3 linked regions of the Homo sapiens genome follow. The protein of the gene in region 2 interacts with the protein of the main gene of each other region in a biochemical or structural test. Each region holds a gene or a part of one and is shown on either strand. Other genes may lie near its edges. The genes, in order: MBD1, PIAS2 and HIC1.

Region 1 (3,651 bases), 3.5 Mb from region 2:
TTTTAAGGTCTTTGGACCTAGGGAAAAGGGAGCAGGTCTGTATGTTGAATGAGGTTTGCTATGTGCGCAATGGAGCATTACAAAACCATTTCCTACTATTCTGTGTCCTCCATCCACTTCCCCTTAATTATCCTTTATCTTTTTTTATATCTTCTAAAAACTACCATTATAGACAGCTTGTACATAGTCAGATTATAAGCTCCCTGAAGGTAGGTATCCTGTGTCTCCTGAAGGGTAAGCTTTGCAGGGCTCATTGTCCTCAATGCTGTGCACCCAACAGGAACTCAATCAATACTTCTGTAATTGGCCAAGTATAGATGAAAGGGTTTCTAGCCTGGTGGGCTGGTTTGTAGGAGCAAAGGAATCCAAGTGCTTAGGCCAATAGTTTACATCGCCAGTGTCTGGGGCTCTATGCAGGGTCTGTCAATATTCTGCAGGAGCCAGCACTCCTCTGTCCTCCCAACCACCCTAGTCCTTACAGGCATCTACCCTTTGTTCTATGCCAGGACTACAGGGACAGTTCTGCAAGGCATCTGAAGTTAATAACCTCAATAGGCTCAGGAAAGGCTCAAGAGATCCAGCCCAAGCCCTTCCACAGAGGCCGCTCCAGGAAGTGCAGGGCAACCAGAGATCACACAACTACGTGTGAACCCAGCTCACAAAGCCAGCTCGGAACCCAGATCTCCTGCCCATACCACTGCCCAGGCAAGCCCAGCACCATTTCTCTGGTACACATTGCTCAATGTCAGGCAACAGCCCACCCAGAGGTCTCCTGGAGACTCTAAAGGCCTTCAAGACCCAAATGATTATTCTCTGAATAAGAATTTATATATTAAAGCTGACCCCTATAGAAATTCCTTAGGAAAATAGGGACCAGACTCCCTATCTTTTTCTTTCAAATCTCATGATAGAGTACCAAGTCTTTCCCCTACCCCCAAAGGAGAGTCCTAACCTGGAATGCTATTGGGCTGGATCTCAGGAGAAATCTCTAGGGTCCTACACACACGCCCCTCATTAATTGTGACCAGCATAGTGGGTATGGGCCTTTACCTCCCACCACACCATGCCAAACTGCCGGCTATACTTTCAAAACTCAGGGCCCACATCTGGCCAACACCCACTCCTTCCCCACCCCTCACTGTGTGGGGCACACCTTGGCAACCAGACTGCTGTATCTCGGAAGCGGGTTCCACCCAGGCTGAAAATCTCCGTGATCTAGAGAAGAATTAACACCATAGGTCAATGTGGTTGTTGGGGCTACAGCAGGGTCAGGGCAGGGTGGGGCATCCCCAGCACTGACCACGGGTGTGCCAGCCCCTCCTGCCTCTTCCTCTGGGGCCAATTTGGAGGCAGAATCATCCTTGTTCTCCTCCTTGTCCTCCTCTGGGTCAGGTGGCTCTTGCTTCACAGAAGGCAGGCCTGGGTCTACTGCCTGGGAGAAGTAGGAAACAGGCAACCATTAGAAGGGCAGAGTTCACCTGAGGAAAGTCTCTATCAGCCAACCCCTCACTGTGCTGACAAATCCTACTTCCATCACATTTCAACACAGAAAGTCCATCTCTCTGCCTACAAAGCTTTCCCATTCCCATTCCTCACTGACCTCCGTTTTTCTGTTAGCTGGATAGCAAAGCGGGCAAAGCTAGTTGCCTGTGGGAGGTAGGGTGTCTGTTAGACAGGCGGGGTAATTCTGCAGAAACGTCGCAATCAGCACATCTATTGCTCTGCTCAAGAGAACCATCATGGCTCATCATCACTCTGCTTACAGACCACTCCGCTACGGCACCAACAGAACATCCATCACTGCCCCCACCTTGCTAGGGCAGCCAGGCACCAATACGGGAGAAGTCAGGACAGCTGTGCCTGGTGTCCACTCGTCCTGGGTATCCGCCTTCTCTTGCTTCACCTGGGGTAAGGCCACAACCCAACTCAGGCCAGAGCACTGGGCCTCCTGCGTGAGGGAGGATTGCAGCAGACTTGGTCTCAGCTCCCTGGCATGCAGCTGGGTGAGGCTGGGAAGGCAGGACAGGGTGGGGCCCTCACCTGCAACAGGGCTTCTGTGGAAGCTGCAACAGGGCCCGGCACCTGCACAGGACTGCTTGCGCCTTCCCGTAAAAACACAAGGTCAGTGCCAGGCGGGGGCAGCACAAAGCCACCACCTGCTTCCTGCTTCGTTGGAGCCTGGGTATGGTCTGGTTGGGCTGTGCGTGTAGCCAAGGTGGGCTTCAAGGTAGGGCCAAGATGGTGCCGTCGGGCAGAGCTGGGCCTCTTTCGACGACGGTAAGGTGGGGGCGATCCTGCCCCATCCTCAGACTCTGACCAGACACTGGGCAGCAGCCGCTTCTATGGGGAAAGATAGGGTGCTATGGCTACCTGGTGTCCTGACCAATCACATCCACCCTGCCCGGCTCCACATGCCTGCTAATCTCCCATCAGTCCCAGCACGGAATCTGCTTACATATGAGCCCTTCATCACTGAGCCTGCTAGTCTCCTATTAGCAACACCAATGCCACCTAGACTCATTAAGCCAAGAACAATGTCTGTTAATCCTCAACCAAAGCTACTGCCCCACCCACCCACCTACCAAGCCTGCCCACCACTTCCAGGCACTGGGGCGCCTGGCCCAACCTATCCCGTCCACCTGACCCTTCCTGCCCCACCCACCATGGCAAACTGCAGGCATTGGCGCCAACGACACTTCTGGCGCTTCTGGTTGCTGCCCCCGAATTTGGGCTTGTCGCAGCAGAAGTCGCAGCGGCCACAGTCCATCCGCCGTAGGCAGGCTGCACAGGCCCCGCACTTGCGGTTCTGCCGGCGGTTCGTGTAGGGCTGCTGGGGTGGGGGGAATGGGTGGTGCTGTCAACTAGGACTAGGAGAGGCCATCCTCAACGCCTATTCCAGTGCTGGTCCTGGTGCTCCTCTAGCCCCATAAGACGGAGCTACTTGCATACTAGTCTCAGCCTCCTGACTCCCCACTAGTCACTCCTCAGCATTCGCTAGTTCAACATTGGCCACTATCACTGTGCCAGCTGGCCCTCGATACCATTAGGACTGTGGCTGCTCCACTACAGTATCCACTGCTGTATTTCCTAGGCCACCACTAGCTACCAAGAAAATGTCTCTGACCCCCATTTCCAGCAACATTTTGATAACTCTCTATTAGCTCCCATCACTGTGCCTACTCTGTCGCTCATCCTAGGTGAACCCCAGTCACTATGCTAGCTGCTCCTCTGTCAATCCCCACATCAGCTACCAGAGTGTTGGTATATGTGACATGAAGCACTCTCATGCACCTGCTGACCCCGTATTAGTCCTCCATTATCTACTCATCCCATCCTAGGACCCATTATTGTGCCTTGCTGTTCCCCAATAGGCTCATTCCAGCATCTGCTTCTTTGAAGTTAACCAAGCGTCCTGAGATTCTAGGCTTATCCAGGTAGGGTGGGGCCACTCACTAGCTCGTCCTCGTCTACACAGTAATAGATGAACTCGGCAGGTGGCGAGGGGGCCAGGGCTCTGGGGTGCTGTAGAGGCAAATGGGGTGGGGTCAGGGCAGGTACTGGGTAAGGTCAGGGTTGTGCCTTCCCTCCACCCACTGGGGCCTCACCGGCTCTGTGGGCTCTGGGGACTGTGATGGGGGTGGTGGAGGCAGT
Region 2 (3,546 bases):
GAGTAGCTGGGATTACAGGCATGTATCACCACGCCCAGCTAATTTTGTATTTTTAGTAGATACGGGGTTTCTCCATTTTGGTCAGGCTGGTCTCGAACTCCCGACCTCAGGTGATCCGCCTGCCTTGGCCTCCCAAAGTGCTGGGATTTACAGGCGTGAGCCACCGCGCCTGGCCAAAATAAAATGTTTTTATCTTTCTTCACTTAGAACTATGAAGGCCTTTTCTTGTTCTGGTAACCCCCCACAGTGTAATTGGTGCTGAAAATAGTTTCGTGCCTGAGGTCTGTTGTCACTCACTCACTTTCTGACAATTAGGTGAGCCACTTGAGGATTTTCTGGCCTGAAGTTATAAAAACTTGGCATCTGTCCTAAGGTAATTGTAAAGGCAAAATGAAAGCATTGAGGTGAATTTAGGTTATATGGCATTTATCTGGTAATGTGTTTCAGAAAAGCTAGAATGAAAATGTGATGTAAGGGATAGCAAGTGTAGGTTGATTCATAATTCTTGGTATAAAACCAAGTTTTCCTTAGTCTTGAGGAATTTGAAGAAAGGTAAAATGTTGGATTTTAAGCAAAGTAGGATTGACCAGAGACTGTTCTGACTTTGACATTCAGACCTTTCAGATGTTCTTCCTTCAGACCAGTCCAAGACACTCAGCATTTCCAGCCAAGTTGTCTTTTTTTTCTGCCAATAAAGTATTCATTAGTTGACGTTTGTTTGTATTTTAAGTAAAGTCAATTTTTTTTAAAGCATTAATTTAATTCACGGGTATGCCTTTCATTTCTCTGGCCTTCAGTTGGTTTAAAAAAAAAAAAAAAAAAAAAAGCACTTAGCCGGACCATTCTTTCTTTAGTAAACATTTTTATTTTCTTAATTTTTCCTGAAAGATTTTCTTCATTTTCATGGAATGTCATAATGACACTACCATTATTTTCTAGCTCTTTGCATAATAGAAAAATGTAGAGCAGTGCACCATTTAAACACGTCTGACATTGGATTTAGTGGTCCTAGGTTCATGTGATTTGGGAGCCTTAAGTTGTTATTTAGATTGATTCAGCCTGATTCACCATCTTTTTTACTACAGTTCTACATGAATGTGGTGAAACAGGTAGAAGAAAATTAAGCATTTCTCTGCTTTTGGAGTCTAATGTTCCTGCCTAGTGACTGGTTTGTAACACCCCCCTCACCCCTACTTTGTTAGGAACCTGCAATTCCTAAAAGAAATAAATAAAGCTGTACCCAATGTCCATTCTTTAATGCTTGCCTGGTTGAATAATGTTTGTTTTTTCTGTTTATGTCAGTAGTACATGCTTATTGTGGAAAATTTAGACAATACAGAAAAGTATAACAATTAATTGCCTATGATTCTGTCACCAGAAAAAATCACTTGATATTTTTGCATCTTCCTTGCCATTGTCTTTGCTACTTCTGCATATTTTTACTTAGTTTCATCATTCTCAGTGTAATTTATATCTTGGGGTTTTTCCCCGCAACCTACAGGCATTATTCCATGTCATTAAAACTGTGTCAACTATTATTAATTTTATGGTACTCCATTGTTATGGATGTGCCATGTTTCATATAACCTTTACTTATTTTGAACAGTTTAGATTATATCTCATAATGCCACAATGAATGTCTTTGTGTATAAATTATTTTCTTAGGATAAAATACTGGAGGTGGAATTTCTAGTCAAGGGTATATGAACACTTTTGTAGTTCTTGATTCATACCACTTTTCCACATGGGTATGTTAATTTATACTGCAGCTAGATGGTATGGGAAGGGTGGTCTAGCCATATTTTCCAAGAACATGCAACGTTTTATCTTTATGCAGGCATCTGCACTAAGACCCTCTGCCTTTCTGACTCTATGGAACGGGGTTAACTGATATGGAGATCATTGGCAGAGATTTTCCCAAGCTTTCTTAGTTTTAAATATATCTGACATGGGCCGGGTATGGAGGCTCACGCCTGTAATCCCAGCACTTTGGGAGGCCAAGGCGGGCAGATAATCTGAAGTCAGGAGTTGGAGACCAGCCTGGCTAACATGGAACATGGTGAAACCCCATCTCTAGCAAAAACATAAATTAGGTGGGTGTGATGGCAGGCGCCTGTAGTCCCAGCTACTTGGGAGACCGAGGCAGGAGAATCGCTTGAACCCAGGAGGCGGAGGATTTGCAGTGATCCGAGATTGTGCCACTGCACTCCAGCCTGGGTAACAAAGCAAGACTCTCTAAAAAAAAAAAAAAAAAAAAAAAAAAATATATATATATATATATATATATATATAAAATCTGACATGTTTCAGAAACACCTACGTATGGCTATCCAAGCTTTTCCCATGATTTTACTGGCACTGTAAAGTTGCACAAATATTCTTTGTCAGACTACGTTTTCCATCTTTAGTTCAAAAGTTTTGTCACTTTTTAAAAAAAGCCTCTTGTACCTAAGGCCTGCCCTTAAGAGGTCAGCTCTCTTTTTCCTCTTCCTGTAGGCCCCATTATGGCCTTTCTGAGCTCCCCAAAGCCAGTAGAATCTACTGAGCCAAAGGCATTCCATCCCCAAACTGAAAAGTGGTAAGGCTAAAAGCTATAAAAACAGGCAAACATTGCCTGTTTTCACTTTATATTCCCTTATGTTTCCAATAAGGGTAGCTGCAGGGAAAGAAAAAAACAGATTGCTACCTTCAGATGTTTGAGGTACAACATTTTCTTGATTGGCGTAGCACAATCATTTCCCAAACTGCTTCCTATTTCTGAATGGCTTTTTTAAAAAGCTTTATTTTGTGTTCTCAAAGCTTAATTATTTTAAGTGACGAAGAGTGTTACCGTGTTGTAGAATAGCATATGCCTCTTATTTTGGCCTTCATCAAACTGTTTAATAAATGTTTAGAGTGTTTTGTAAGTACACGTGGAATAGAGTGTTACAGAAGTTTTGGTTCCAGACATCAGGCAGCTTATAATCAAGGTTCCAAAAATCAAGAATTCTTAAGCTGGGCATGGTGGCTCATGCCTGTAATCCCAGCACTTTGGGAAGCCAAGGCAGGCAAATCACTTGAGGCCAGGAGTTTGAGACCAGCCTGGCCAACTTGGTAAAACCCCATCTCTACTAAAAATACAAAAAATTAGGGCATGATGGCTCATGTCTGTAATCCCAGCTACTTGGGAGGCTGAGGGATGAGAATTGCTTGAACCTGAGAGGCGGAGGTTGCAGTGACTCAGGATCATGACCCTGTACTCCAGCCTGGGTGACAGAGTGAGACCAAAAAAAAAAAAAAAAAAAAAAAAAAAAAGTAACAGGCATTGTGCAAAGAATTTTCCAAGAATGTCTCATTCTTGCAATGGCTTCTCAGAGGAAAGTGGTGTTATTCCCCATTTTACAAATGAAACAGGTTTAGGTAAGTTTCCCAAGGTCACAGTGAATGAGTAGTGGACTTGGGAGTCTGACCTAGACTTACCCCAAAAGCTCTCTGCGTAAACTGAAGTGACGTTAATTAGCTGTGCTATCTAGGAGACTGATATGGGAATCTAGACTTAAAATTATG
Region 3 (2,970 bases), on a different chromosome or scaffold from region 2:
GCACGTGGAGGCTCACGTGGAGGAGGAGGAAGCGCTGTACGGCAGGGCCGAGGCGGCCGAAGTGGCCGCTGGGGCCGCCGGCCTAGGGCCCCCTTTTGGAGGCGGCGGGGACAAGGTCGCCGGGGCTCCGGGTGGCCTGGGAGAGCTGCTGCGGCCCTACCGCTGCGCGTCGTGCGACAAGAGCTACAAGGACCCGGCCACGCTGCGGCAGCACGAGAAGACGCACTGGCTGACCCGGCCCTACCCATGCACCATCTGCGGGAAGAAGTTCACGCAGCGTGGGACCATGACGCGCCACATGCGCAGCCACCTGGGCCTCAAGCCCTTCGCGTGCGACGCGTGCGGCATGCGGTTCACGCGCCAGTACCGCCTCACGGAGCACATGCGCATCCACTCGGGCGAGAAGCCCTACGAGTGCCAGGTGTGCGGCGGCAAGTTCGCACAGCAACGCAACCTCATCAGCCACATGAAGATGCACGCCGTGGGGGGCGCGGCCGGCGCGGCCGGGGCGCTGGCGGGCTTGGGGGGGCTCCCCGGCGTCCCCGGCCCCGACGGCAAGGGCAAGCTCGACTTCCCCGAGGGCGTCTTTGCTGTGGCTCGCCTCACGGCCGAGCAGCTGAGCCTGAAGCAGCAGGACAAGGCGGCCGCGGCCGAGCTGCTGGCGCAGACCACGCACTTCCTGCACGACCCCAAGGTGGCGCTGGAGAGCCTCTACCCGCTGGCCAAGTTCACGGCCGAGCTGGGCCTCAGCCCCGACAAGGCGGCCGAGGTGCTGAGCCAGGGCGCTCACCTGGCGGCCGGGCCCGACGGCCGGACCATCGACCGTTTCTCTCCCACCTAGAGCGCCCCTCGCCAGCCCGCTCTGTCGCTGCTGCGCGGCCCTGGCCCGCACCCCAGGGAGCGGCGGGGGCGGCGCGCAGGGCCCACTGTGCCCGGGACAACCGCAGCGTCGCCACAGTGGCGGCTCCACCTCTCGGCGGCCTCACCTGGCCTCACTGCTTCGTGCCTTAGCTCGGGGGTCGGGGGAGAACCCCGGGACGGGGGTGGGATGGGGTAAGGGAAATTTATATTTTTGATATCAGCTTTGACCAAAGGAGACCCCAGGCCCCTCCCGCCTCTTCCTGTGGTTCGTCGGCCCCCTCCCCCGGCTCCGCGCTGCTCTTAGAGGGGGAGGGGTGTCACTGTCGGGGCACTCCTAGCCCTACCTCCGGCCCTTGCGACCACACCCATTCTCACTGTGAATCTCCCCGCTGGGGTCGGAGCGTCGGGCAGAGTTGGGGAGTGGGGAGGGGACTGAGCCGGCCGGAGGGCCCCCCGCACCCCCGCTCCCACCCACCCCGGGACTGATAATGTGAAGTTCCTCATTTTGCACAAGTGGCACTAGCCCCAGGGCCAACCCTTCCTTCCTCAGTCACCAAGGGCGGGGAGTTCTGGAGTCGGAAGGCGAAGAGCCTACCACCAGGTCTCCCACTCCCGCGGTGCCCTCCCTTCCCTTCCCTGCGGCCCCGGACCATATTTATTGCATGCGCCCCGGCGGCCCCCCATCCCGAGCCCAGGCTGGGCTGGGCTGGAACGCGGTCTCTTTAGCTCCCTCCTCTTCGTTTGTATATTTCCTACCTTGTACACAGGCTCTTCCAGAGCCGCTTCCATTTTCTATACTCGAACCAAACAGCAATAAAGCAGTAACCAAGGACCCCGACCCCGCTGCTCTCTTCTGCCCCTGCACAAGGACCTGGATGGGCTGCGCCCGCTGGGTGGAGGAGCCAGAAAGGGCCACCCTCACACAGGTGCAGAGGCTTGGACCTGCCTCCCTCCCCAGTCCCAGAAACAGATCAGCAAGAGGTCAGGTATGTTTCATAACTAAAAATTTATTAAGGAAACAAAACCAGTGCTGCAAACGGGACAGAAAGGAGAGCTGGGTCTCCCTCCCGACCACCCAGTCATCGGCCTTCCAGCTGGGGAGAGAATCTTAAAGGAGAGGCCGGGGACCCTGTACTCCAAAGAGCCCAGTCTTCTGAGACTCTAGGGGACTCCTACCCCCAAACTACTGGCCTTGGCTCCCCTACACGGTACCCCATCGCTTCTGGCATAGTCCTGGGCCTCAGGGAGGGCAGAGCTGCGCACCCATCCTCCAGGCAGGCTGTGCAGTCAGGCCATGGGCTCTGGGGTATCCCCCACTGGTCCCATTAAGATTTGCCCCTGGCTCCACCGAAAACCCCGTCTTCCCCTAAGTTGTCCTTGTCTCTGGCCCTGGGTTTCAGGAACTCATTCTTGGTAAGGAAGCCTCCCCACTGAGGTACCAGCTAAAGGGGCAAGGAAAGGGCCCCTGTGTCAGTGTCAGTTTTTCCGGGGAGTGAGGGCAAAGCTAGAAACCAGGTTAGGCGACGGTGCCCCAGCACTGGAATGCCTCAGGCTGGGCTGTCCACGCCTGGAAGTTTCTCCCAGCACAGGAGCCGAGGGTGGAAGGCCCTGGGTGGGAGACCTGTACTAGGTTCCTGCCATGGGTAGTAGAGAGGGAAAGTTCAGAGTGAGAACCCCTATGACGAGGAACCGCGGTGAAGAAATGAAGGGGATCAGGGAGGTGAAAAGGATCAACTAGAAGGGGAAGAAGGGTGAGGGGCTATTCTGGAGGGAGGGTAGGCGGGCAAGGAGGGGTGAAGGGGGAGCTGAGGGGAGTCAGGACATTTCCTGAAGAGGAAGCTAGACGGAAAGAAAGGCCAGTGAGGAGAGAGGGAGCAGGTGGAGGCCACCCGAGAGCACGGGCCTGAGACCAGATGCCCCTTTCCTCTAGACTCATGACTGTCCACGGGGACGCAACTGGCGAAGTGTGAGGGACCCAGGTTGATAAGGGCAGGAAGAGGAGCAGCAGGAAGGGTGTGTGGTAAGTCTGGGGTGGATGGTAGAAGAGGTGGGGGCCCAGGGCTGCTGTTAGGGACATGCTGTCTAGAAGCCGACTTGGGTTCATGGGCG

The links.
Region 1: the proteins of PIAS2 (region 2) and MBD1 form a complex in vitro, tested with the Homo sapiens proteins (one study listed by BioGRID).
Region 3: of the proteins of PIAS2 (region 2) and HIC1, one has a biochemical effect on the other in vitro, tested with the Homo sapiens proteins (one study listed by BioGRID).

What each region holds. Positions count from the first base shown.
Region 1 is NC_000018.10:50,271,524-50,275,174, forward strand, and holds part of MBD1 (methyl-CpG-binding domain protein 1), read right to left. Parts: coding exon 3,606-3,651; intron 3,523-3,605; coding exon 3,454-3,522; intron 2,831-3,453; coding exon 2,663-2,830; intron 2,341-2,662; coding exon 2,041-2,340; intron 1,949-2,040; coding exon 1,811-1,948; intron 1,433-1,810; coding exon 1,301-1,432; intron 1,216-1,300; coding exon 1,154-1,215; intron 18-1,153; coding exon 1-17. UniProt on the Homo sapiens protein: Transcriptional repressor that binds CpG islands in promoters where the DNA is methylated at position 5 of cytosine within CpG dinucleotides. Binding is abolished by the presence of 7-mG that is produced by DNA damage by methylmethanesulfonate (MMS).
Region 2 is NC_000018.10:46,806,102-46,809,647, reverse strand, and holds part of PIAS2 (E3 SUMO-protein ligase PIAS2), read left to right. Parts: 3' UTR 1-3,546. UniProt on the Homo sapiens protein: Functions as an E3-type small ubiquitin-like modifier (SUMO) ligase, stabilizing the interaction between UBE2I and the substrate, and as a SUMO-tethering factor.
Region 3 is NC_000017.11:2,057,995-2,060,964, forward strand, and holds part of HIC1 (hypermethylated in cancer 1 protein), read left to right. Parts: coding exon 1-841; 3' UTR 842-2,970. UniProt on the Homo sapiens protein: Transcriptional repressor. Recognizes and binds to the consensus sequence '5-[CG]NG[CG]GGGCA[CA]CC-3'. May act as a tumor suppressor. Involved in development of head, face, limbs and ventral body wall.